Linked DNA regions of Homo sapiens: all the other regions are linked to region 1. The links come from fine-mapping of genetic effects on gene expression. A gene starts in region 1. Each other region holds a variant in brackets. All regions are shown on one strand. Distances are from middle to middle. Region 1 holds the start of PITRM1 (pitrilysin metallopeptidase 1). Region 2 overlaps PITRM1 (pitrilysin metallopeptidase 1). Region 3 overlaps PFKP (phosphofructokinase, platelet). Region 4 overlaps PFKP (phosphofructokinase, platelet). Region 5 overlaps PFKP (phosphofructokinase, platelet).

The links. PIP is the estimated chance that this variant, and not a neighbour inherited with it, causes the effect.
Region 2: its variant is the best candidate, but not a certain one, in a credible set for the expression of PITRM1 in B cells (Schmiedel 2018, PIP 0.87).
Region 3: its variant is the best candidate, but not a certain one, in a credible set for the expression of PITRM1 in prefrontal cortex (ROSMAP, PIP 0.51).
Region 4: its variant is the best candidate, but not a certain one, in a credible set for the expression of PITRM1 in tibial nerve (GTEx, PIP 0.54).
Region 5: its variant is the best candidate, but not a certain one, in a credible set for the expression of PITRM1 in unexposed skin (GTEx, PIP 0.87).

The regions. Positions count from the first base shown.
Region 1 is chr10:3,170,664-3,174,894 of GRCh38, reverse strand. PITRM1 (pitrilysin metallopeptidase 1) reads left to right here and starts at 2,113. Exons shown (of 27, transcript NM_014889.4): 1 at 2,113-2,178. The coding sequence starts at 2,123. RefSeq lists an enhancer at 563-1,100 and silencers at 1,299-1,458, 1,749-2,588.
Region 2 is chr10:3,150,563-3,154,793 of GRCh38, reverse strand. It overlaps PITRM1 (pitrilysin metallopeptidase 1), which reads left to right. Exons shown (of 27, transcript NM_014889.4): 15 at 3,431-3,547. Among named protein-coding and RNA genes, the nearest start is that of PITRM1-AS1, 11 kb to the right of the region's middle. The variant C/T (reference allele first, on the strand shown) is at 2,163.
Region 3 is chr10:3,114,680-3,118,835 of GRCh38, reverse strand. PFKP (phosphofructokinase, platelet) reads right to left here. Exons shown (of 22, transcript NM_002627.5): 14 at 1,990-2,060; 15 at 1-54. Among named protein-coding and RNA genes, the nearest start is that of SNORD142, 17 kb to the left of the region's middle. The variant C/T (reference allele first, on the strand shown) is at 2,295.
Region 4 is chr10:3,125,803-3,130,033 of GRCh38, reverse strand. PFKP (phosphofructokinase, platelet) reads right to left here. Exons shown (of 22, transcript NM_002627.5): 17 at 51-215. Among named protein-coding and RNA genes, the nearest start is that of SNORD142, 6.2 kb to the left of the region's middle. RefSeq lists an enhancer at 306-819. The variant C/G (reference allele first, on the strand shown) is at 2,476.
Region 5 is chr10:3,120,204-3,124,434 of GRCh38, reverse strand. All of the region lies in intron 16 of PFKP (phosphofructokinase, platelet), which reads right to left. Among named protein-coding and RNA genes, the nearest start is that of SNORD142, 12 kb to the left of the region's middle. The variant CAT/T (reference allele first, on the strand shown) is at 2,218.

The sequences.
Region 1 (4,231 bases):
GTGGCCAGGCGCGGTGGCTCACGCCTGTAATCCCAATACTTTGGGAGGCGGAGGCGGGCAAATCACGAGGTCAGGAGTTCGAGACCAGCCTGACCAATATGGTGAAACCCCGTCTCTACTAAAAATACAAAAAAAAAAAAAATTAGCTGGGCATAGTGGTGGGTGCCTGTAATCCCAGCTACTCGGGAAGCTGAAGCAGGAGACTCGCTTGAGCCCGGGAGGCTGAGGTTGCACTGAGCCAAGATTGCGCCACTGCAATCCAGCCAGGGCGACAGAGTGAGACACGGTATTAAAAAAAAAAAAAAAAAAAAGTTGTGCCACGACCATGTTGGCCACATGTCATCTGGACCTCCTGGGGCTGTGTCATGGGCATGCCCTTAACCTTGGCAAAATTAACTTTCTAAATTGATTGAGACCTAGATCGGATATTTTGTGTGCACACACCCAAATTCTCCCTAGAAGACGGGTGATGCGCAGAGCGTGTTTGTGTCTGTCGCTCCTATTATTGCCTGTGTTCTGGTTCCTTTGGGCTCTTCAATAAGGAGGTACGTGTTTACCTGCAGCCCAGAACTGGCTGCCCTATGGAGAGTTTAGGGTAGACACGTTGGGACTTTTTCCCACAGTATTACCTTCCACATTGCTTCCAAAGTTTTAGCTTGTTCAAGCCGACTGCAGCCATCTACTTACCATTTAATTTTTAATTTTTTTTTTCAGAGCCCATTAGGAGACAGAGGGAGATTTGAGCCTGTTTGTATTCGTGATACAAGGGGAAAAAAAGAGGGAGAAGGTGAAGGGAGGAAGGAAGAGAGGCTCTGAGAAACCCGGAAGGTCAGACTTGGTGCGGACTTCCTCCAAGGGCTACCCCACCCTCTCCAAGCGTGGCTAATCCCAGGGCCCCTTCTGGCCCACAGTGCAGAACCACCCACTCCTACGGGGGCCTCCTTCAGCCTCTCTGGGGGTTCCCAGAAGGGCCCTTGGGCACTTGGGCAATGTCAGGGGGCTCAGGTGCATCTTCCTAGACACGAAACGAAGAGGAAAGCGGAGGCAGCAGCGGGGGCCACAGGCTCCCATGCAGCAGCTCGGAGCTGTGCTGTGCTTCGCTGGCGGCCATCCGTGATACGTGTGACACCGTGGGGCCCTGGCCCTGGGACCTGCCATGCAGCCTTGAGATCTCATCCAAGAAGCCCCCAGACCCCAAGGTTCAGGCCTGGCGGGGCAGCAGAACGCCTTTGGAGCTCAGCTCAGCCCTACAAACAGGACCAACGCCCACACCAAGGCCAGAGAGGGCTACCAAGTTTCACCTGGCCCAGCTTCCGGCAGCCCCCAACCAGGCCACTACCCTCACCTGAACACCGCGGTCCATCACCAAGCCCCACCCACTTCTGCCAGCCCTGCCCCCACAAGGACCCACCTCTCGCATGCAAGCCCCGCCCCCAAGGCCCAGCTCACCTGCAGCCCCGCCCCACCAGGCTCCACCCCATCGCCTGCAAGCCCCATCCCCAAGGCCCAGCTCACTTGCATCCCCGCCCACTAGGCTCCACCCTGTCACCTGCAAGCCCCGCCCCCAAGGCTCAGCTCACTTGCAATCCCCTCTCCCACTGGTCTCCACTCCTCACCTGCAAAGAGCCACCCCTCGCTAAGCCCCTCCCATCACTTGCACAGCCCCACCCAACACAGCACGCCATTCCAGGAGCCCCTCTTTTCACCAGCGCAGCCCCGCCCTTCACCAGGCCCCACTTCATCTGCATACACACGCCTCTCGCCACGCCCCACTTCTCGCCTGCCCACTTCCCCCTCCTATCATCTGTCCACATCCTGCTGCTGGCCGAACCCCGCCCCTTTCGGCAAGACGGCCCCGCCCCTTTCTACCCGTACCACGCCCCTCGCCTTGCCCGCCTCCTTCGGCACGTCGGCCCCGCCCCTCCCGCCCATCTCCGTCCGCACCGCCCTCCCGCCCGTCCCAGAGCAGTGGAGGCCTACCCTTTTCACCTACAGCCTATCGCAGAGGACGTCGCTGTTCGCGTTGACCAATAGGAGTGGTAGCTGTCACGGCAAGCCCCGCCCCGCGCCCTGCGTCGGGTTAAGAGGGGGTTCCTCGCCAGCCAGGTGCTCGTCATGCGCAATGTGGCGCTGCGGCGGGCGGCAGGGCCTGTGTGTGCTGAGGCGGCTGAGCGGCGGGTGAGACGCTGCGACGGGAGGCGCTCGGCGCGCTGGTACCCGGGAGGGGAGGGTCCAGGGCAGGCCGGAGGCGTAGGGGTCCTCGTCCCTGCGCCCGGGGCTGGCAGCTCCCCAAGCTGTGGGCGTCCCGCACCCCGAGCCCTTCCTGGAGCTCCCGCATCCGAGGCTCCGAGGCCGGAGGACCTCGGAGCTCCTTCCTACTCCCAGGGGCGATGCCCCGGGCTGGGGGCCGGGCCTGCCCGCGGCGCTCCCGGCGGGGCCCTCCATTAGCGTGGGCTTTAACGGGGGTAGTAAATGGGGTCGGCATTTGCGGTTCTCGCTGACAGCTTTGCTCCTAGTTCATTTTTGTTGGGAGGCCGAGTCCTTAAGAGACCCGAGGCGCCCACAGCCCATACTTAAAGTCTCGCTGTGTTCAGAGAACTGACGCCTCCCGGAATTGAACTGTTTTGTTTTTTTAATGACTCAATTTATGGGGAAAAAAATGACGAAGCAGTTTAGTGTTCATGGTAATCCACGAGCCCGTGTTTAATATAAGGTAATAGTTCAGCGCTGCCGGCCCAGGCCGGGAGGCACGGGGCGTCCGTGGCATGAGTTCGGCCTGGCCTTACCGCTCAGGAGTTTCCTATCATGTCCTTGATAAGTAACTTCTTAAAACGCTTCTGTCCCATAATTCTGAAATTTGCTAAATCAGTAAGCAAATGTTGGTTATAGCATATCTTCATAATATTGCCAGTGACTGAATAGGTTTTTTCTTCCTGTACATATTATCTTTAAAATAAATATTTCGGTGGGATACATTAATGTAGAAAATCCCATACGACATATAATACAATTGGAGAGAATAATAATTACGTGTTTTTTAAGAGCAGGGATCTTGCTCTGTTTCCCAGGCTGGTTTGATCCCCCTCCTCAGCCTCTCGCATTGCGGGGTTACAGGTGTGAGCCATCTCATTCAGGTGAGAATAATTATTAGAAATAGGTTGGGCGCGGTGGCTCACACCTGTAATCCCAGCATGTTGGGAGGCCAAGGCGGGCAGACCACTTGAGGTCAGGAGTTCAAGACCAGCCTGGCCGACATGGTGAAACTGTCTCTACTAAAAATACAAAAATTAGCTGGGCGTAGTAGTGAGCACTTGTAGTCCCAGCCACTCAGGAGGCTGAGACAGAATTGCTTGAACCCGGGAGGTGGAGGTTGCAGTGAGTCGAGATTGCACCGCTGCACTCCAGCCTGGGCAACAGAGTGAGATCTGTCTCAAAAAAGAAAATTAGTGTCCCTGTGACCAAGTTGAAGATTCCCCTAACTGCTCGTAACTCTCTCCCTCCCTCTTAGATTATCACGGTCATAACATACAGAAATGTCCTTGCTTTTTTTTTTTTTAATATTTTACCATTTTTATGCGTTCTGACAATGTCTTGTTACCTATTTGAATAATACCTGTTTAGGATAATACTGTATCATGTGTATCTTTTGTTTCACGTTATGTGACCCATATCTTTGTTACATGCCACTGTAGGCCCTTATATTGGTAAGGTTTTTTTTTTTTTTTTTTTTTTTTTTTTTTTTTTTTTAATTGAACGATTAGTCCGCACTTTATCCATTCTCTGTCGATACACCTCCGGGTGAGTTGAGTTTGGGACTGTCAGGGTTCGTGCTGACATTTTTGTCTGTGAGTGCTGGGGCCGCAGTGTAAGGTGTGGACGATAGAGACCAAGAGGTGAATGGATTTCCAATCTTCAGCATTTTTTTCTTTTTTTTCCGACAGTCTTGCTCTGTCACCCAGGCTGGAGTGCAGTGGCGTGATCTCGGCCCACTGCAGCCTCCACTTCCCGGGTTCAAGCGATTCTCCTGCCTCAGCCTCCCAAGTATCTGGGACTACAGGCACCTGCCACCACATCAGGCTAATTTTTGGCCAGGCTGGTCTCGAACTCCTGACCTCAGGTGATCCGCCCACCCAGGCCTCCCAAAGTGCTGGGATTACAGACGTAAGCCACCACGCCCGGCCTCTTCAGCCTTTCTAAAGAATGCCAAGTGCTTTTCCAAAGTTATTCCACT
Region 2 (4,231 bases), 20 kb after region 1:
CCAAATGGATTCTCAAAGGTAGTTTGGCCTCTGGGAAAAAACATTTGCAAAAATGGTGTCTGATAAAGGCCTGTATTCAGAATATACGAAAAACGAACAATTCAGTAATGAGAACACACAACCCAATTAACACATGGGTAAAAGATTTTGACAGATATCATCTAAGAGTTCCTAATGGCAAATAGGCACATAAATCATTACATGGGAAATAATCTCATTACTTTCTTAGGGAAATGTATCATAATTATTAGAAAAATGCAGATTAAAACTACAGTGATATACAATTATACACCTACTAGAATGACTAACATTTTAAAAATTACTGCCAGCACCAAATGCCATCAATCCTGAGAGGCAGGGGGAATGCTCACATGCTGCCAAAGGAGCCAAAATGGTGTGGCCACCTAGGAAACGGGGTCACAGTTCTCACAGTGCCAGCCAACATGCACGGACCAGGAAAGCCCCGCTCCTAACGTTCCTTCAAGAGAAATGAAAACAGGCGTCCGCACAAAGCTTGAAACAACCCAGATTTCCATCAACATATACATCCTTACAAAGAAATGCCACTAGCTGTGAAGGAGCGCAACAATGATGCACGCTTGGTATTGGTGCATCTCGAAGCTTCCCACAAAGGGAAAGAAGCCGGGTGCCAGATGACATCCTGAGGCCATTCATGGGAAGCCTAGATGTGGCAAAGCTGCAGGGACAGAGAGCAGATGAGAAGCTGCTGGAGGCCCAGTCGGGGTGTGGTTGACTGCAGTGGGGATGGGAGAGTTTTGGGGTGCTAGAAAGGCCCAGTACTATGATGTGGTGGCTTCATAGCTTGCCACAGTTGTCAGAACTCAGTTGAGTCTTTAAAATTGTGAATATTATTGCTTGTAAGTTATGTATTAAGTCTTTTAAAAATAGATGCAACACATACACACATGCACTTACTTTTCCTATTAAAAAAGCTAATTGGGCTGGGATTCTGTGAGAAATTGTCAGGCTTGTCAGGAGGTAAGAGTGGACGTTAGGTGGAAAGTAAGTGACTCCATTTTGATCATGCTAAGTTTGAAGTTACATCATGTAAAAGAAAAATTAATGTCAGTTTGTAACCTGCTCTTACTCTTGCTATCTGAATTCTTGTTTAGAGACAACTGGTTTTTTTTTGTTGTTTTTTTGGTTTTTTTTTTGAGACGGAGTCTCGCCTTGTCACCCAGGCTGGAGTGCAGTGGCACGATCTCGGCTCACTGCAAGCTCCCCCTCCCGGATTCACGTCATTTTCTCGCCTCAGCCTCCCAAGTAGCTGAGACTACAGATGCCCACCACCACGCCCAGCTGATTTTTTGTATTTTTAGTGGAGACTAGAGACAACTGTTTTAAGCTCTATTTTTTAACCTTACTCTTTTTCCCCCCTTATTAAGCTCTGTTTTGTGACAAGCTCCAATCTTCCCGCTTTTAATTGAAATTATTCATGACTACACAAGATAATTCCATGAGTAGGCAACAGGTTGTACGTTTCCTAAATTACTTCATATTCGTGGCCTGGCCTCAGAGCTGTGCTTTAAGAAAACCCCGTATACTGTAGTCCAAACCAGTAGGTTAATGAGCAGTGCTCACACTACAGATTTCTCCTTTACACACTCGCTGTGTAGCTCTTTGAAAGGAGGGCACAGTGCTAGTGCATTGAATGGTTATTTCAGGTCAGTAAGTCTTCAAGTGTGCATGGCAGTGTTAGGGTTCTGTGAATTAAAAGCCAATCTGTAGAGAACAACAATGCAGAAAAGGGGAATGGGAAACTATGTAGTAAAAGCTTGAATCTTCCGATTTCTGGTCTTGTGTGTGTCTTAAGCACTGTGAAGGGGTAAAGCCTCCACCATCAGGGAGTGTGTGATGTGCTGAAAGAAAACAGAGAAGAGAAAGTGCCAGAGGCTTTTTCTACCAACTGTGAGTGAGTGCATTCAGAGAAGGAGCCCTGGATGTCAGGGTAGCTGTGGCGTGCTCTAGCGCAGGTGGGCCCAGGGACCACGGGGGAAACCGGGTCAGGGAAGAGGCAGGAGGGAGCTTTGTGGCAAAGCCACAGATTAGAAAATCTCCGAGTGGCGTGAGGTCGGGAAAGTCAGGATGTTAGGTAGGTGGCAAGCAGGCAGGGGAAGCCTGCAGAGCCCAGGTCTGAGCTC[C/T]GTGCCATTGGGAGCCTGGGCTCCACATGCTGCTGGGAGCAGGGGTGGTTATTGATGGCAGTTGCGGCTCCAGAGGTGGACAGAAGGGCTGGAGCCCACAGTGGGGCACCTGTGGAGGGATGACACTGCCTGAGATGCTCACTGCGCCCCAAGGTCCCGTGTCTAAGTGCGTGGCACGCTCTCGGGGAACTTCAGAAGGTGGAAATGGAACATGGGGGAGGTCAGCCCAGCAGACACCAGGAGTGCTGTCTGCGGGGACTGAGTTAAAGTGGGAACTGGGCACAGCCCTCCCCGGGAGTCGTGGAATCATGCATTTGTATACTTGCTTGGCTCGGTGTAGCACTGTGAAGCCGCTTCACTGATGGCCATCAGGGCGGGGAGCACGCCTGGGTCTTCTGGATTCTCCACATGGGCTGTGGCTCAGTGGAGGAGTCTGCTGTGAAGGTGCTGCCTCCCTCATTGATGCATGCACTGTCAGGCCCAGGAAGTGTCTTTCTAAGCACCACTGTAATTTGTGTGATTTATGTGCTTGTGTAAGTCTTTTGCTGAAATTAGTGAAAATGAAACAATAGAAAACAAGTATAGGGCCAGGTGCAGTGACTCATGCCTGGAATCCCAGCACTTTGGGAGGCCAAGGTGGGAGGATCACTTGAGGTCAAGAGTTTGAGACAGCCTGGGCAACATGGCAAAACCTCGTCTCTACAAAAAAAAAATAAAAATAAACAGAAATCAGCCAGGTATGGTGGTCTGCACCCCTAGTCCCAGCCACGTAGGAGGCTAAGGCAGAAGGATCACTTGAGCCCAGGAGGCAGAGGCTGCAGTGAGCTGAGATGGTGCCACTGTACTCCAGCCTGGGTGACAGAGCCAGACCCTGTCTCAAAACAAAAAGAAGATAAGTATAAAGATCACTAAATTTCAGTCCATCAAGAAATGGTTTGAAAACTCTAAAAACAAGTTGAATCTATTTAATGTAAACTTTGGAGGGGTGCAGGAGAAGCTGCTTGAGCAAACCACCACTTCCTAGCAGAATTCCTTAATAATTGAAAATGAGAATTAGGAAAAGGGCTACCCACTAAGCAGGTTATTAGTGCGTCTAAATATGGTCAGCCTGGAAATAGGAGATACTTTGCAAACCACAGTGCTCCTGTACTCCCCACACTTGGCGTGGACGGCTAATTCTGGATGTTAAGATAATAACATAGGAGACAAGTTGCATCAAACCTTTTAATTATGGCCCTGAATATTCCTTTTTCTTGTTTCTTTTTTAGGTCTAGAATTACGGAGTCAACAAAGCAAACCTCAAGATGCCTCTTGTCTGCCAGCGTTGAAAGTTTCCGATATTGAACCCACCATACCTGTCACAGAGTTGGACGTGGTCCTGACAGGTCACTGTGAACGCTACGCTTTTCCCGGGTCTCGGGTTCCTTGGGGGAATTAAATGTCACTCCTCACAGAAGCAGTAGAGTCATGTCTTGGAGGTTTTCCCTGAAACACTTGAGCAGCCCTGTGCGTTCATAGTCTCGCTCTACACGATTCTTCTGCCTTGTTCTTAACTCTCGGTGGTGATAGACTCCTTCACTCAGTAAGAGCCCGTGTGTGTGTGTGTTCCTGAGAGGGGTTTGATAGGGCGCTCTGATTTCCTGCTTCTAGAATCAAATGAGGATTTGGGTTACGCTGTGACTGTGTGAAGCGCAGTTTTAAAAATCGAGGCGTCCTCAGAGCCCTTTTTCCTAATGTTTACCCTGCCATCAGCATAGAGGAAGCAGAGGGACGAGAGCCCCCAGAAAGCTGAGTGCTGAGTTGAAAGGAAGTTGGAGACCAGGTTTATCCCCCTGCCGTGTCCTGGCATTTCGTTCCTTGGCACGTTTTGTTCCGTGACACGTTTCATTCCATGGCACCTTTTGTTCCGTGGTACTTTTTGTCACGTGGTCTGTCACTGCTTTTGAGTTCTCAGGGTGCCCCCTTTCTCTCTGGCTCCTGGCTAGTAGCAGGAGAGGCACCTTTGGGGTAACCTCACCTGCGACAGTGTTGATGCTGAGCTTACCAGCGGGTGTGGCCGGACGTGACTG
Region 3 (4,156 bases), 56 kb after region 1:
CTGTGCGTGCGCATCTGTGTGGCGATCTCTTCCAAGTACTTCCCCGGGAGAACGCTGAAAATAGCCACGTGGAGAACGATGTCAGACACCCCAAACTCCACGCGGTCCGCAGGACGCCACGCCGGTCCCCACCCGGCCGCCTTCCCCAGTCTGTGGTTTTAATTAAGGAGCGGTAAACGTCTGCCTTTTCACTCATGCCGTTGTGGCTGGCAGATGGCAGAATGACCAGGAATCTCATCTCAAAACAGTGTTTTCATGAGAAAATGGAATAAAGCATTTCAGCTCATACCTTGACCTAAAAAGAACTCTACTGCCCCATTAGAAAAAATAAAATTAAGAAGTTATAATTAATAACAATTTTTTTTTTCCAAGATGGAGTCTCACTTTGTTACCAGGCTGGAGTGTAGTGGCGTAATCTCAGCTCACTGCAAGCTCCGCCTCCCGGGTTCAAGTGATTCTCGTGCCTCAGCCTCCCGAGTAGCTGGGACTACAGGCGCCCGCCACCACGCCCGGCTAATTTTTTGCATTTTTAGTAGAGACAGGGTTTCACCATGTTGGCCAGGATGGTCTCCATCTCTTGACCTCCTGATCCACCTGCCTCAGCCTCCCAGAGTGCTGGGGTTACAGGTGTGAGCCGCCGTGCCCAATAATTGTTTAAATGGAAATTTCCAGTTTCCAAATAACTTACATATGCATTATCCACTATTGATCTCATTTAAAATCCCATCTGCTCATACCTGCTCTCCCTCCCCCATGCTCTCACCAATGTCACATGACAGGGCTAACAAGTGCAACACCAGACTGTGCCCCTCCCTGGATCCCATCCCAAGCCCATCCAAAGGTTTCATGTTGATTGGAAGAAGTGAAGTACTTGTACTCTTGGTAGATTTATAAGACACCGTAGGGCAAAAACGTTCAGGCCAGGCAATCAGAGCAGACAAGTGAATGCAGCTAAGTGCAAACCTGTGCTGGCCCCTAAGGTGAGGTTTCTTAAGCCTCTTCAGGACGAGCCCACAACAGCCAGCGAGTCCTCTCTACGTTCGAGAGCAACGCCCTGGCCCTATCAAGCACCTGTGCCCGGGGTGTCAGCAGCCAGTCCTCAGCCCCAGAACGCACACCGAGGGATGCATCTGCCTCTACCTAGAGCTTTACCGTCCAGGGCACCCACACACAGAGCTCATGAGAACAGCCGGGAGGCAGCTGTAGAGCTAACCCAGCTCCGAGGCTCCCACCATCCCACCAGTGGCTGGGAGTACCAGGGTCCTGGCTGTAAAGCAAAGCAAAGGGTGCAGCTAACTCCCTTGGAACAATAAGCCGGAATTACATGGAATCCATCATTTATTATATTTGCCAAAAACTACCTTCCTTCCATGTGAAATTGTAATGTGTAGTGATGACAGAGATTAATATTCGCACCTCTGACATGATCAAAGGTGAGAATTACTCAGGCTTCATCTACATTAGGAAATCCCATTGTCCCCAGGGATGCAGGGACGCCAGGCTTACTGTAGGTCTGAAAAAGAGATTTTTAGACTAGAATTCCTTGGGTCCTTTCCTCGGCTGTGGAAATCTGAGCCTCGAGTCACAGCTGCTCAGGGCTATGCTTCCCACCAATGCTACCTGCTATCCAGGCTGCTTTAGGGTTTGCTTAGAGTGCCATCTCCACGGCTCCGTGACACCACTCATCTTTATGACCTCCAAGTGGAGGCTTTAGGCTCGCCAGCTGGCTTTTCAAATGAATGGAAATATGAATTAGAGGAAGGCATTCACAAGTTACCTCCTCTTCTCTCTTACGCCCTGGGACACATCCCCAGCTCCCTGGAACACGGGCAGTTCCACTGGAGGGAGGACCGGTAACTGCCTGCACCCCTCCCTTAGGGACGCCTTTCCAGGAATCCAACTGGCGTCGGCACCCAGCGATTCTCTCCCAGAACACGGCTCTTCCTTCTTCCTTAAAAGCAGGTCATAGAGTTGAGATTTGGAAGTTACCGTTTTGTCCCAAGAATGGAGCCTCCTTGGCCGGTCCAGCCCCCGACATCTGTCCAGCCGATTTCTTTGATCTAATGTGCAAACACAGAACGAAACAGCTAAAGTGAACAATGAAAGGCAAGTTGCAAAGTGCTAAAAATAGCTTTCTGTACTTTTCAACAAGCTGCATTCCGGTAAAGATTTGAGAGGCGTATGAGACAGCATTTATCACGATGCCCGGATGAATCAAGGTGAGAAGCAGAAGTCCAAGGTTAACAACTCATGAAGAGCAGCAGAGGGGCTGCGTTCTCCCTGCCTGTCGGGGC[C/T]TCTGTGTCTCATCCTGAGCCACGTGTGAGATACATCAGCTCACCGTATCCCGCCACCGGCAACTAAAAGAAAAGTAACATGATGGTTTCTAAGTTGGTAAAAGATTAAGGGAAAATTTCTTTTCTTACAAACTAGGGAGAAAAAAGGAAAACAGATTACTAAGCAAACTAAGGTAATCGCAGAAAGAGGATGCCACTGCGAGGACGGCAGGACTGCAGGAGGAGAACCCGTGGGGCTCGAACCCCAGCTCCGCAGCTTCCGGTCACGAGATTCTGGGTAAGTTCACGGATGTGGTGGACACACTGCCATGCTGCAGGGGGATCTCCAGGTAAATTACATTAGAAAAAAGATCATTCTACATCAAAAGGTAAATACTGTACAAGGTGTGTATGTATATATATATATATTTGACAGAACCATATAAATCAGGCTTTTTTTTCCCACATAAATCAGTTTTGAAGGCAATATTTTTTAAATAAAGCAAATACCAGTTTTAAGCCAATTAATCTTCACAAGTCTGAACAAGAAAGACGGGGAAAGCAAGATCCACCCAGGACAGAACGGTTCCTCATCCGGTTCCTGCTGCTGAGATGCGGGTGGATGGGCCAACACAGAAGGGCGGGCAGTGGTGGTGGAAGGTGGATCATCTGTGTTCCCAGGGATGCCACAGGGCATCTCCACCCCACCTCTCTGCCACTCCTCAGTCTCCTGGGCTGGGGTTTCCTCTTCCCACCCTACTCTTAACAATGGCGCCCTGAGGAATCAGTCCTGGACCTTCTCTCTCTCCTGCCTGCACTCAGGCCCTCAGGGAAGCTCTGTGAGTTCTGCATCTTTAACTACGTGGAGACGCTGAAGATTCCTAAACCCATGAGCTCAGCCAAACCCTCCTGAAGATGCTGGGACACAGCGGCTTACTGCACATTCTTGGCCACGGGACACACACCTTCACCCTGGCATCCCCAGTCCTGTCCTCAGCTGAGGGACACACACCTTCACCCTGGCATCCCCAATCCTATCCTCAGCTGTGGGACACACACCTTCACCCCAGCATCCCCAGTCCTGTCCTCCATGGCGGGACACACACCTTCACCCCGGCATCCCCAGTCCTGTCCTCCATGGCGGGACACACACCTTCACCCCGGCATCCCCAGTCCTGTTCTCAGCTGCGGGACACACACCTTCACTCCAGCATCCCCAGTCCTGTCCTCCGCCGTGGGACACACACTTTCACCCCAGCATCCCCAGTCCTGTCCTCCGCCGTGGGACACACACTTTCACCCCAGCATCCCCAGTCCTGTCCTCGGCCGTGGGACACACACTTTCACCCTGGCCTCATGAGTCTCCGCTCCTCATCCTACCTGCAAGAAGTGTGTCTCAGGGCTTCCTAGTCCTCATAAATTGCAACTCTACCCTTTCCATGTGCTCAGGCCAGGAATGGAGTGATCCTTGCCTCCTCTGTTTATGCCTGCGTGTACTTAGCAAGCAAACCCCATCTGCCCTCCGTGCCCTCCATACCTCCAGACCCTTGAAGGTTTCTCGCCATCTGCACAGTAGCCAGTCTGGACCCACCATCTCTTGCTAGGTGACTGCAAAGCCCCGGCTGGGAGCCCTGCCTCCTGCCTCAGTGAACAGCAGCGGGTCCCTTTAGAAAGCTCTTGGTGTGGGCCAGTCCCTGCTCAGGACCTTCGAATCTCACATAACATAAAAGCCAACCTCCTCAGGCTGCCCACAAAGAAGCCGGCCCTGCCCCTGCAGTTCCCATCCTCACTGCCCTGTGCGGGCTTGGAGCCCCCGCCCCTGTGAGCATCAGCTCCAGAGCATCCTTTCCCTCCACCTGGGATGAGTGTCCCCTGAGGGCCCC
Region 4 (4,231 bases), 45 kb after region 1:
ACCCAGTGGATCCCAAGGGGACGGGCCCTGAGGCCAGCCCCGTCACATACCTGCAGATCCCTGATGTCGAAGGGCTCTTCGAAAATGTATGCGGCATCAGCTCCGGCCGCGAGCCCCCCCATGTTGGCCAGGTAGCCACAGTAGCCGCCCATGGTCTCGATGATGAACACGCGCCGCTTGGTTCCGCTGGCGGACTGCTTGATGCGGTCGCAGGTCTGGTCACAGAGAAGCGATCAGTCACTCCAGCCCAGGCCCGGGGCGCGCCCACCATCCCAGAGCTCCCCCAAGAGTGAGTGCAGCAAGGCCCCCCCACCGCGCCCAAACATGCGGTCCCAGCATCCCGCAGAGGTGAAGGGTGTGCAGCAGCCAGGATGTGCCCTCGGAGTGGGTGTGAACGTGGTCCCCCGCAACCCCACCATGGCAGCCACCTGGAGGTGACCTCGATGTCCCGTTTTGGGGGCCTGGCCATCTGCCGCTCCCTTCTCCCAGGCCCCATAGAAGGGGACGGAAAAGACGACCCCACAAGCCAGCTCACTCCACGCTGCTCTGTGACTGTCCCTGCTGAAGCCGCTTTCACCGGACACAGACACCGTTAGGTGTTAGCTGAGATGTTAGGGGACTGTCCCCTGCCAGCTTAGTCCGTGAGAACCGCTGTGCTATTCTATTTTCTTCTGAAAAGCTCCCTGTGATTTTAGAGGTGCGGCCATCTTCCATCCATTGGCGAATGTTACATTTATGGAAACTCTACTCAAAGGCAGATGGTGGTTCTTAGACCCAGGCACCTGGGGAAGTCTTCCAGATGCACAGGCATCGGATCCCAGAGTGAAATGTCTGCCATCCGCCCTCCATGAGGACCCAAGCTCGGCGGGGAGAAAAATGGCAAAGAAATGCATCGGCCGCCTTCCCACCCATACATCAGTCCGGCTGCAACGCCCTCTTCCTGGGCCTCAGCTCCCACCCCGGGACCCTCCAATCCGTTCACACAGAAAGGACCCCATCTATAAAAAACATAAATCTGATCCAGTTCTTGGTTTATTCAAAACCCTTTGCTCACTTCAAGTACACATCAAGCCTTTGTCGGGAATCCCCGGCCCCGCCTGCTCCCGGCACCAGGTCCTGTTCCAGCCACCCCAGGTCCTCCTGGGGCCTTTGGATATGCTGGCCGCTGTGTGCATCACATTCCGGCACAGTGGTGGGCGGGAGAGCAGCCCCCAAAGGAATCCCAGTCCTATCCCTAATCCCTGGAACCTGGGAATGCTCCCTCATGCGGTGATAAAGGTGAATCCTAGGAGTACCCAGGTGGGCCTTAAATGCCATCACCTGCATCAGCAGATGAGGGGCGCAGAGGCTGAAGGCCCTGGAGCGGGATGCTGCACACCCACATGGAAGGAGGAGGCGCCAGGGAACAAGGCGTACAAGGCGTGCAAGGCCCGCAACTCTGGGCACCTGAACGGGCCACGAGGGACGCTCCTGGAGCAAACATTCTGGCCTCAGCCCATGGCTCCTGCGCTCCAGAGCTGTGGGAGAGAGTATTATTTTCCAGCCCCAGGTGTGTGGTCAGTGTCACAGCGGCCACGGGACACACAGAGGCACCTTCCTCAGCTCTGATCCAGAGGAAAATGTCATTTCCTCAGGAAAACACCACCTGGTTTCTAGGACCACAAAGTTCCCTCTGTCAGGGGCTCTCGGAGCCACCCCATGTCCTCTCTTCACAGAAATTATCCCGGTGTCTCTCCCTGCAGTTACCTTGTGGTTATTTGACTTGGGAGGATCTTCCTCACTAGGCTGCAAATTCCATGAGGACAGGAACTGTGGGCTGGGCTTACACCAGTGCACCATCAGCAGCACCCGGCCGAGCCCCCACAGCAGGCGCTCAAGAAATGCTTGTCTCTGAATGACATAAGCATGGTATTCCCCAGCCAGCCGTCCGTCCGTCCTGGTCAACGGCTGATCCTGCAGGATTCCCTAATGGGCCTCCATGGGACTCAGCCAAGAGTAAGAGCATGAAGTGGGGGTGTGGACTTGAGACTAGGAGCCACGTGAGAGTCTGTGCACCCAAGTTTAACACCCATTGGGAAATGTTCACTTGAGCACTTCGGATGAAATCTAAAAGTGCACTTTGATTAATAAATGCAGGCTTGATTAAATGATTCCAAACTGTATTTCCAGTTTCTTTGGCAGATTCTTTTCTTCCCAAAATAATTGGTTGATGTATTCAAAACTGAACACGGACTCTAGTTAGCGGGCCACTTTGCATTGTGTAGAAGCCGAGATGGGGAGAGAAACAGGCAATGGGAAGAATTCCCATCTTTGTGCTTAGGAGGACAGAGGACAGATCCCCGTCAAGGGTCCAAAGAGCCCACAACTGCCTTCTTGAAGGGCCAGTGCAGAATTCTGAGGGTTGCACTGTTCCACCTGTACCGGGTCTCTCTAAATGTGATCTAAGACTTAAGACGCTGTAAGGCTTTAAGACTT[C/G]TCCTTTGTCTTAGAGAATCCCAGGCACGGGTGGGGCCTCAGGACCCCCAGAGGCACAAAACCTCATGGGTTACTTTTCCAACTGAATCTCCCCCGCAGCCCACCCTGAGGTGGGGAATTACTGTCACTCATTCAAAGAATGACATCAACCGCTTAATGGCAAAAGAATTCTGCGGGCAAAGCAGCTCTCCCAAGAGGCTGATTTGTGCCCAGGCGTGTCTGAGTTCTGGTCCCGCCAGGCTGCCCCAGGGGGCTGTGGAACAGCGCAGCCCTGACACCTGAGCCACGCCCCCGACTGTGTGCTCGTCTCAGTGTAAACGCAGCGACAGCTGGTACGGAAGAGGCCGCCTTTGCTGGAGCTTAGATACAGCTTTCCTGAACTCTCTCCTCATTACCTAGATGGCATCTGAAGCCTGAATTAGCTTCTAAAAATAGCAAGTCACTCCGGCCGTGCCTCAGGCAATTAGTCAAAGCAGCACTGACAAGAAGGCGGCAGATCCCAAGCGCGGCCCTGCCTGCCTGCAGTGTGGCACGGAGGTGCCTCCCTGGCCTCCGAGTGGGTGGAAGGATGGCAGAGGGCTGTGTCCCAGGGCTGGCACGTGGACAGCAGCTGTGAGTGGCACTTGTCAGGCAAAGCCTGTGACCTCAGCCGTTCCCCCTGCACGATGGGATGTGCCCCCAGCAGACGCCACCCCCTGCAAGGACGCAGAGGCGATCCTGCTGCTGAGAAATTCCCCGAGGAGTCCCATGGGAGCGAGAGCCCCAGGCTACAGTTCAAACATCACCACACTTTGCTCCATGGGTGTTAAGAAATATAAATTGGTGGTGAAAGAAAAGGTGGCGTTTGCTACAGCATTAACGTAGAAAAAAGCCACTGACTTCTCTGTGAGAACCACCTTGCTCTGTGAATCTGCAGGGAGGCCAGTTTTCCCATGACTGGTATCCCTCACGGCAGCCGAGCCTCTGCTGAAGTCGGTGGCCAGACGGGACAGGGGGTGGGGGTCCTGTCCCTGCTACAGCATGGAACCCGCAGCAAAGCACAGCTGCTGGCCAGGGTAGGGCTGCGTCGCGTGTGGGGCGCGAGGGTGGAAGTGTGCATGGACATCTACAAGGTGCTAAAGGAGAGTGAAGCCAGCGATGGCCGGACCCTAATGGCATTCACCCAACAGGGGTCAAGTGCGGGGCCCAAGGAAGTCCTGGGAATGAGCCAGGGCCAGCCTCTGCAAGACCACCACAGCACTGGGGAACACAGGGAGAAGCCTAGGAGAGAGATGGCCAGGACACGCCCCTCAGCTCGAGTGGGAGGCTGAGGCTCGGACTCACAGGAAGCTGCAGCCGACCTCATGGCTCCTCTGCTCCCTTCCCTGCACTGTAACTCAGCTCTGAAGGAAGTACCCGGAATAGAACTGCTGTCTTCCGAGGTTCTGTGCTAAGCTGAACTAAGGAGTCTCCAGCAGGACTGGGAGTTTTCACTGCAAACTCCGGAGCTGGCTTGGACGTCAAGATGTAAGGTAAAGGCCAGTGGCTGCTGTCCCCGCACGCGATGCAGGCCTACCCCGGCCAGCAGTTCTGCTTTGCTGTGGGTCCCTCGCACCAGGTGGCCAAGTCACGGACGTGACCCCACATGTCACGGTGGCCACCGTCCTGTCTGCAGCTGAGTGAGGACCGTCTCTGCAGCAAAGGCCTGTGGAACTACCATAGGTCTTCATGTCCAGCTTATGACCATAGAGGTAGGTCAGAGTATCAGGGACCGGAG
Region 5 (4,231 bases), 50 kb after region 1:
CCGGTATCAGAAAGGGGAGCGGTTCTTGAGCCCGTGTACACCGGGGTTTTTCAGACTCCACCTCAGGGTGTTAACCAAAGTCACAGCAGGACAGGTCCACACGCCCACTGTTCCCACCTCCAAGTGGCCCCACACAGCAAGGTGTTTTTGACATCCACGTGGTGGCAAAACCAACTATTTATGGTCTTGGACGTGTCCGTCTTACTGTGAATATCCCCACATCTGCTGCAGAAATGCTACTGGTGGGACACAGGGCGGCGCCCACACCTCCCTGGGAGAGTCGGACAGTGAGCGATCTGGGCTCTGCAGCCCTGGTGCAACGCAAAGCATCCCAAGGCCTGGAGCCCGTGTGGGCCGAGGGCTTCGGACAGTGGGTGTAGACCCGTGGCAGGTGAGTTCACAGCACGGTGGATAGGAGGGTGGGGCGGGTGGGTCAGTGCTGGGTGACCACAAGGCGAGCTGTGAACGGGGTCAGTGCTGGGTGACCACAAGGTGAGCTGTGAGCAGGGTCCCCCGCACCCCATGGCACAGCCTCCACCTCCACCCAGGCCCAGCACGTGCCCAGCTCTTGGGCCGCTCTGTGCAGGCTCTGCCTGGCAGGCTCTGGCCATGGCAGTTTTTGCAGGACTTCAATCCAAATGCCAGCTGCTTCCCAGCCAGCAACACTCATGTCGGGGCACTGGCTGGCCTGGTGCCCAGGATGTGGCCCCTCAGCACCGCCACGTGGGAGTCTCCTTATGCTTTTCAGACAGGTGATGTCGCTCACTTTACTGTGGAATACCCGAGCTCAGGACTGACCAAGACTGGCTGTGGGGAGCCGGCTGTTTCTCCGAGAAGCGCTCGCTGGAAGCCAGACGGTGTGGGTGACCTGGGACCAGGAGGGGCCTGAGGCACACAGGAGGGCAGGTGGGGGTCTCGGCAGCTTAACTCCACATTGAAATCTGTGGGGACAGCCACAATGCTGCAAATCCTCTCTCCCCTCTTCCCTATCACTCCTCTTTTCCTTCCTTCAGTCTCCAAAAAAGGGAAGGGAAGCTTCAATACGGGGGAGACCCTGCCCAGCAAAACATAAAATTCTCAAGACCAAGCGCAGCCAGGCTGTGAATCAGTCACGAGGCTGTGGTCACTGCCACCTTCGCGGCAGCTGACGGCAGCGTGGCAGCAGCTTACTGTGCTTCTGATGTGACCTTATCGAGCTTACAGGACGGAGTAATGGGCCAGTGCTAAGGAATGAAAGGGTCGGACTGAAACTCCCTGCAGCCGTATCCTGAGAACGTGTCACACCGGCTCTGAGGTATCTCATTCCTTCTGCTCTGCCCGGAGGACCACTCACCAGCACCGCATAGATTCTGAGGGGCTAAGCATCAATGCTGGCAAGAAGGAAATCATGAGAGAGGACGAGGACGCACGTGTCCAGAGAAGATGAGGCTTCACCACATCAGCCCCGCCCAGGGCTTCCGAAGCACAACACGGCGACATCCTGAGCCAGACTCCTATTATGGAGCCCACCCTGTGCTCTGAGGGACGTTCCGCAGCGTCCCTTGTCTCCAGCCCCAGATGCTGGGAGCATCCCTTTTCCCACTTCTAACCAGAAACCTCCCTGGACGTTGCAAACATCCCCTGGGGCAAAATCACCACCCCTGCCCCCATGAGAATCACCAAATTTTCTGAACAATAGAAGCCAGTATACTGGAGCCATCTACAGACCTCAAACCTAAATGCTGCCCAGGGCCATGCCATGAGTCACCAGTCACAGAGGGTGTGGCCGGACAGGGAAGAGACGCTCACTCCCATGCGTCCTCAGCCTCCGGCGGCTTCAGGACAGTGGCCGGGGGGACCCGGAGCCATCCACGTCCAGTTGCCTCACACCCTGATTTCCTGAGGACGCCACCAGCTCATGTTCTTCTATGGCCAGACGAGCCCAGTTCAGACCCAAATCCAAACCTTCTCAGGATTCACACTGTTCGGCCGTCAGTAAACAGGGCTCTGGAGAAAACAGCTGCCATGTTCACATATCGGTCCCTCTCCCTTCAGGGTCCACAGAGGGACCCTCAGCGGCTTTCTCTTCTCTGTCCCAGCTCCCCAGCAGCCACAGCATTCGCCAGGGTGACCTCGGTCAGACGGCGCCACTCACCCATCACGAGACTAGAACCACCGCACTCCCAAGACAGCCTTGTTCCTTGGAGCTCAGGATCAGAAGGGCAACAAGGACACACA[CAT/T]GCACTTACCAAGGTGGCTGTGCCTGGCCAACGGGAGGCTCAACTAACTACACGCTCCAGTTCTTTCTCAGACATTGTAATCAGTTAACTTCAGGCCCGGCGCGGTGGCTCATCCCTGTAACCCCTGTGCTTTGAGAGCCCAAGACAGGGGGATTGCTTGAGCCCAGACGTTTTGAGACCAGCCTGGGCAACACAGGGAGACCCCGTCTCTATGGAAATACAAAAAATTAGCTGGGCACGGTGGCACCCACCTGTAGTCCCAGCTACTCAGGAGGCTGAGGTGGGAGGATCACCTAAGCCTGGGAGGTCGAGGCTGCAGTGAATAGCGATTGCAGCACTGCATTCCAGCCTGGGAAACAGAGTGAGGCCCTGTCTCCAAAAAAAGAAAAAAAAAAAAAAAAAAAAAAAAAAAGAAAAAAAAAGAAATTGTTTAACCTAGCTTCGAGAAACTCGAATGAATGAAAAACTGCATTTAAAACAATCGCATAATAAATCACACAATCCCTCCAAGGGAAGTAAAAGCAGGTGGAAATGATCATTTGTGGGGTGTTTTTGCCCCACGTATTTTGGTTTTCATAAATTTGACCCTATGCATTTGTTACATATTTACAATCTGAAAAAAAAAAAAAAAAAACAGTTATTTATAGCAGAGGACCCTGGAATTAAAAAGAAACTCAGCTAACTGCAGCGACCGCTCTCAAATTCTCCACCCGTTCCCTCTGGGCGAGTTCCAATTAGGTAACAATTAGGGAAAAAAGAAGCTTCAGTCCCTCCCATTGCACACCCAACTTTCACAGACCCAAAAATCTAGCTAAAGCAGGCGAAAGAGCAGTGAAAGCAATGACGGAATCCAGTCTGTGAAAGAGGCTCATCTTCACATTCACAGTGCGAAGGTAGGTCCAGAGCCGGGCCAGCCCCGCAGCAGCAAAGCCGTGACACCCACCACCAGGAGAACAGAAGCAACGTCTAGGTCAGAGATTAGCAACTGCCAAAAATAAGGTGAAAGTTGCCCCCAAAGCCAGTGAACACAGGAAAACCTGGGCAGGTTTCCTTCGCAAAGAAAGTGAAGAAAGTTTAAAACGCTCAGAAAAGCAAGAAACGAGTGCTAAGCATTACTTACCATATGAGCTGTATGTTAAAAGCTTGTTTTTTTATTTACCAGTGCTAGAAATAAGTTTCATGCCAAGGTTTTACAAGAAAAAATATCTTTGAAAAATATTCATGAGAACCAAGTCTCACAAGAAAAATTAAAACTTGAGAATTACTACAAACTTTTAGACATCAAATTTTAAAAAAATGAAATGCTTTCTGTGTTAGGTACGGATCTTCAAACTCCCACATCAATTACCAAGCGTGACACACAAACATGGGAATAGGTGTATATTTCTTTTAGCCGGGAATGGTGGCACATGCCTGTGGTCCCAGGTACTCGGGAGGCTGAGGTGAGAGGATCACCTGAGCCCGGGAGGTCGAGGCTGCAGTGAGCTGAGATCACACCACCGCACTCAAGCCTGGGTGACAGAGTAAGACCCCGTCCCACAAAGAAAAAAAGAAGAATATATTTCTATGTTTTATTATTGTCTCTTGGCAAAAAAACTAAAGTAGCACCAATTATTGCCTTAGAGGTAATTTAACATCCCCAGTTTACAAAGGGGAAAATGAGGTCAACAGCCAAGACCAGAGAGATAACAAATGCAATGGTGCATTCAGGGCAATGAATAAAATTATAAAATATTCAGTTCAATTTCTACCCTCAGCATCAAGGCAGGGGTTCATCATAATGGGTATTGGAGGCTCAAAGAAAATTTAGGCTCAGCACACACACACACACACACACACACACACAGCGATTTTTAATGCTGGTACAATCACAGGAGACTGCGACCCAGCCCTCCTCAGCGCCTCGGGTGCTCACGGGCACCCCTGGAGTCTCGGCCACACTACGTCCCCCTGGTGGCCACACAGAAGAAGAGGTGGTAAAACTCTCTGGGAGTGAGATCAAAAATTTTCAG